2 separate regions of the Homo sapiens genome follow, and region 2 is linked to region 1. A link means that fine-mapping ties the variant in region 1 to the expression of a gene that starts in the linked region. Tissue or cell type: whole blood. Region 1 holds a variant in brackets; the other region holds the start of a gene. All regions are shown on one strand. Distances are from middle to middle. Region 1 overlaps PFN2 (profilin 2). Region 2 holds the start of ANKUB1 (ankyrin repeat and ubiquitin domain containing 1).

Evidence for each region. PIP is the estimated chance that this variant, and not a neighbour inherited with it, causes the effect.
Region 2: it holds the start of ANKUB1, and the variant in region 1 is the best candidate, but not a certain one, in a credible set for the expression of ANKUB1 in whole blood (TOPMed, PIP 0.74).

What each region holds. Positions count from the first base shown.
Region 1 is chr3:149,962,191-149,965,120 of GRCh38, reverse strand. PFN2 (profilin 2) reads left to right here. Exons shown (of 3, transcript NM_053024.4): 3 at 1-217. Among named protein-coding and RNA genes, the nearest start is that of PFN2, 7.2 kb to the left of the region's middle. The variant T/C (reference allele first, on the strand shown) is at 1,214.
Region 2 is chr3:149,791,169-149,794,098 of GRCh38, reverse strand. ANKUB1 (ankyrin repeat and ubiquitin domain containing 1) reads left to right here and starts at 1,545. Exons shown (of 6, transcript NM_001144960.3): 1 at 1,545-1,822. The coding sequence starts at 1,733. RefSeq lists an enhancer at 2,659-2,930.

The DNA.
Region 1 (2,930 bases):
TAGGGACATTCTAGTATTTGCTTCTATTGTTTGGGCCTTGTGGATAATGTACAGATTTAAAAACAAATCTTGTTGCTGATTTGTCCATTTCTTTCCCTGCACTTTGTTACATCTGGGATACAGTCTAACTCATCTGATTTAATATGCATTTAAAAAAATGCCATAACTATTAAACACCTTGTTTACAGACAGATGAAATAAATTTATTCCAACCAAATACTCTAGGCTCCTGTTGTTTATATACATTGTTTATATAAACTGTTAAAAGTTGATTTTTGACAAAGTGGGAATACACAGAATAGGCCAAAGTCTGCTGCAAGCATAAAACTTCAGCAATATTAGGTGATGGCCTACTTCAAGTAATATTACAGATAAAATTAGTGCCTGGGAATTTCTTTTTAATGGACTCTGATCTGTTACACATAGCTTTTAGTCATTTCAGGCTCATCTTCAGGAGTATGTGAGAAGCAACTGACTTATCTGCTAGAAAATAAGTATTTTCCTCTTCTTGCTGGTTTCTAGATGTGAAATCTAATAGTAAAGGGAGTACCAAGAAGGGTTTCTGCACTATTGTGGATTTTTCTGTATTGAAATGTCATATGACTTTAGATTTGGAAGCTGTGTTGGCAGGCTGAAGTCAGCCAGCTGGGGCCCTCCCACATAAGAGCAGAAGACATTCCTTAGGCAGCATATAAGATAATTGGGATGCTTTTGCATTTTTTGGCTTTGTAGTGACATGTTGACCATGGCTGTGTAATAGGTTTAAATCCAGAGGCCATAAAATCCCTGATATATATTGAAGTTTGATAAATATGTAAATTTAGGGCTATTTACATAAATCATTATTACCAACAACTGTCAAGCGGACGCTTAGAGCCAGGGGTGCTCAAAAGTTAGTAGGTCTCAGTAAAACTGGGGAGCTGGTTATAAGGCAGACTATGGACTCTGGGGTTCCACTCTGGAGATGGAGAGTCCATAAGCCCAGGAATCCCTTTTCAGAAACAATCACTGAGTCAGTCTGATTCATTTTAAGTGGTGTATATGCTACCTTTTGAGAAAAAATGGGTTAGGGAATAGGAATTAACCTGTCTTAAAATATACTATGCATAATGAAAGTTTTTTTTTCTTTGACTAGTTGTCAGGCACTGGTTGTGAATATGGTTGTACATACACAGGGATGTACAAATATGGGAGATAAAGGATTTGGGGCTAT[T/C]TTGGTAGTTGGACATAACCTAGAAATTGTAAAACTATAATAAAAACCTGGTATCAGTTTCTTGACCTGTTAAGGCCAAAAGACGGGGCAAATGAAAATTTGGTGGTTGAGTTGTGATGATTTGAGATTTTACAATAATACACATTCACACTTTACATGTAAAGAACTATTAGGGTAACCAATTATAGAAGGCAGTGACCAAAATTCTGAAACTCTTAATTAATCTGTAAGTAGGTGAAGGGGCAGTGTGTATGTGTGTGTTCAGAGAGGAGGTTGTGGGTAGAGAAGGTGGTAAAGGGTGAGTGTATCACTAAAATAGTATATAATGAAACTATTCATTGGCTTTCTACCCACAATTTCATTAGAAAAATACTTAGGGAAATACATACATGCGTACTTTGCTTTGTACTTAGTTCTAGGAATTTAGCATATGGAAATGAAGCTATACAAATTTGTATACCAGAATGTCCATCATGCTGCATTACTTATGACATCCAAACTTGGAAAATATCTACAAAGTTCAGCTTTTTAAGGGGTATGGTTTGAATAAATGATTTTAAGTCCATAGGACAAAATAGTCATTGAAGAATGACATAAGAATGTTTACCAATGAATGTTAATAATATAAGGATATAAACATGTCACATGACAGTGCACATACATACAGTATTAATATACATGTATTTTACATATGTATTTCTGAAGGCAATATATTAAGATAAATTTATCTCTGGAGTGAAAGTTTCCAGGTGACTATATTTTGATTTCTAGTGTTAATATTACTTTTGTAATCAAGAAAGTTTTAAATGTTTTTTAAATAGAAATTGGATTTTAATTGCACCTACTGTCCTGTTTGAAAAGCTATACCATGAAATTATAGAACATTTCAAGTGAACATTCACAGAACCTAGTAACAGCCCTAGCCAGTGCTGCTAAATAAGACACTTCGTAGATTTTTTTTTACAGTTAGTTAGTAATTATTTGGAATTTCAAAAAAAAATTTTTTTTTCCATAAAACTCCTAACATAAAGGGACCAGGTCCTTATTCTAAACTTTGGATTAAAGACTGAGGGAATATAACATCTAATACATACTTAACCATTACCGTGACTTTTTACTTTTTTCCCTTTTCCTATTTTAAAATATTGTTTTAGGTTTGTTTTTATTTAATAATAATTATTTTGAAGGCTATTACTTATTGCGCATTGATGTGCCAGATACTGAGCTCAATGTTTTCTCCTCACACCCTCTTAGGTTAAATGAAAATTATGCAAATGACCAAGCAGGTTTAAAAAGGTTAGGGCCATACAATTATGTCAAATTCCAAACTCTGCTTAACTACCGTGGTAACCTTTGATGTCCTGTTTCTCAGGCCTGTGGTTCTTTAATTTTTTATAAAAAAGGGGAAGAGGGATGAGGTATCAGATAGCTGATGTTGAATTCAACCGTTTATTTTCCAAAGTAGAAATACCTATTTATTTTTTTCCTGATTATGAACATTATTTTTTAAAAGGCAATTTGGAAAGTGAAATTTTCCCTCGATATACCATAATTTACAACAGGGTACCAAAATGTACACTGTTTATTTTTGGAATAATTTTGGCAGCAGTCTAAACTTTTTGGGATATTACCTAACTGCATGTGAATGGTCAGTTACCTTGTATAAAGTCCTAAGGTGATGTGATTTCTCTGACCTCAATCATTATCACTTTATAGG
Region 2 (2,930 bases), 170 kb after region 1:
ATTCTAACATCTAGTAGGTGACTGCCCCCTCATTACTCTTCTTTTCCAGAGTTTTTCCAGCTATCCTTGCCTGTTTTCTCTACATGAATTTTAGAACCATCTTGCTTACATAAACAAAAAAAATCTTGCTTGTATTTTTATTGAGATAATATTAATTTATAGATAAATTTAGGAAGAATTGATGACTTTAAATAATTTTGAACCTTCCATCCAAGGTTATGATATACCTGCCACTTGTTCAGCCCTTTTTTATGTTTATTGATTGTATTTTATGTTTATGTTATACGGCTCTTACACATTTCTTGTTAAGATCTTTCTTTCTTTCTTTCTTTCTTTCTTTCTTTCTTTCTTTCTTTCTTTCTCTTTCTTTCTTTCTTTTTTTTTTTTTTTTTTTTTGAGACAGAGTCTCACTCTGTTGCCCAGGCTGGAGTGCAGTGGTGTGATCTCAGCTCACTGCAACCTCTGCCTCCAGGGTTCAAGTGATTCTTGTGCCTCAGCCACCAGAGTAGCTGGGATTACAGGCATGTGCCACCACACCTGGCTAATTTTTGTATTTTTAGTAGAGACAAGGTTTCACCATGTTGGCCAGGCTGGTCTCGAACTCCTGACCTCAAGTGATCTGCCCAACTTGGCCTCCCAAAGTGCTGGGATTACAGGCGTGAGCCACCGCACCCAGCCAAGTTTATTCTTAATACATTATCTTTCCTTTTATAAATGGAGTATTTTCTTCTATTATGTTGAAGAGACAGATTCTTGCTATGTTCCCTGGGCTGCAAAGCAGTGGCTATTCGCAGGTGCAATCACAACGTATTACACCCCCAAACTTCTGGGCTCAAACTATCCTCCCATCTCAGCCTCCTGAGTAGGTGGGATAGCAGGCATGTGCCACCATGTTCAGCTTATTTGCTCGCTTATTGAGCGGGTTTGAAATATTTTCCACCAACACTAAGTGGGGGTTGAAGGAGATAACAATGGGAAATTGTTCTAAATAACATAAAGGCAAGGATTAAAGAAAATACCAACTATATTGTGTTGCTACTCAGCAGATTCTATGACACAGAAATCAGAAAAGAAAGCCACAGAATGATTTGCCTACACATTCATCTCCCTGGTGCAAGTGGGTATTGTTCTGTACCCTGTGGCAGGATTATAAATACTGCCAGAGAACAAGTACACAAAGTTGTTATGGAAACCAGAATGTTTCAGCTCAAGAGTTATTTACAGAGAACTTTCAGGATTATCACATTCAATAAAATCAACTCTTGTTTTGCTTCACCCTGTGCTAGTGCATCCCAATCAAATATCTATTTTTAAGGGTTCTTCAATCAGCTGTACTTATGTAAATAAGAATTCAGGAGTCAGTTGATGGGGACCACATCACAAAAGTGTAATTTATGAGTAGCATTTTTGTATCACATGCTTGAAGCTTGTCCATACTTGCCTCAACCATTGTCAAGTTTGCTGGTTTCCGTAATATAGGAATAAGGTGGCTATTGACTACTGCCTTCCGCAGATAAATATTTCCTCCAAAGTAGCTGGTGTCTGTGTTGCCTGATACTGTGGCACTGTGGGACTAGGCTCTTCACATTCTACAACTTACCTTTGAGGCTAGACAGTGACAGCTGCCTCTGGCTATCATTTTTGTCCTTAATTGTGAACCGGAATTTTTCTAGCCATCCAGGAGAATCTTTGAAAAAGTTGGATATTTTTTGTTTGAAAAGGTAATTGTACAATGAGGATTTTCATCGCCTTTGAAGGATCTTTTGAACCGTTTGATGTTTCAGCAGATGAAACTGTGGAGGTTGTCAAGCTGATGATAAAGGTATGTACTTCGTTCCCAAACCACCAAAATGTATATTAATTTTAACAATGCAGTGCATTTAAAAATGTACAAAGGGTAGAGATGCTATTGGGTACATTTTCAGCAAACAGGGAACGAAAACTATTTGAAAATACTATTATTTGCTTACACAATAGATTTATAAGAAGATAGTAACTCTGGTAGTGTTGGACAAGAAAGCAAAAAGAGCCAGTCAATTATCAAGAAAAAAAAAAAGTCTGACTTCTTTTTAGGGAATGTGTGGGTTGTGCATAGGCCAGATAATATTATTGCAATTCTTCATAAAAGGACCAAAGCAAGACACCAACTTCAGGCTATATACGTGGGACATGCCAGTCATCAGATAAATGTCTTATTTGGTGAGCAAACAACTACAAAGAACAGAAGATTTTGGAAGCAGAGAGGACTTTAGAGAACTTGTGAGCTATGGCTTCATTTTGCATTCAGAAAAAACTGAAGCTCTGAGAGGTTGACTATCTTACCTAGGATCACAGAGCCAGAATAAGAAATAACTTGGGTATAGTATCTTCCTTATAAATTTCATATAAATGTTCACTCTAAAATAAAAAATTAAGCAAAATATTTAGTTTCTGATCATCAAATATTTAACTTGGAGATGGTCATTCCTATTTGCTAAGCGGCATTTACTGAACCATAGTTACATGATATTCAGTAGATTATTATGATGATTGAAATCTAAATCTTGTAACACAAGGGATCTTAACCTCTATGTTTTATTAACCCCTTTGGAAGTCTGGTGATGTCTATAGACTGCTTCTCAGAATGTCTTTAAATGCATAAAATAAAACAGATATGATAGAAATGAAATTTGTTATATTGAAATACATTTTCCAATATTAAAAAGCAAATGTATGATATAGTGACATGTGGACTTCCTAATTAACACATTAACTAACAAGTTCTAGCAGCTCATCTAATAACTATTATTTTCAAAATACAGATCAGTAGAAATAATATTTTGAAATATTTGCAACAACTATAATGTGATATGAAAACATCTGTGACTTCTATTGGTGTCAGTCACAGGTACAGCGACTACTCCTACTTTAATTTGCTGCCTACATGTATA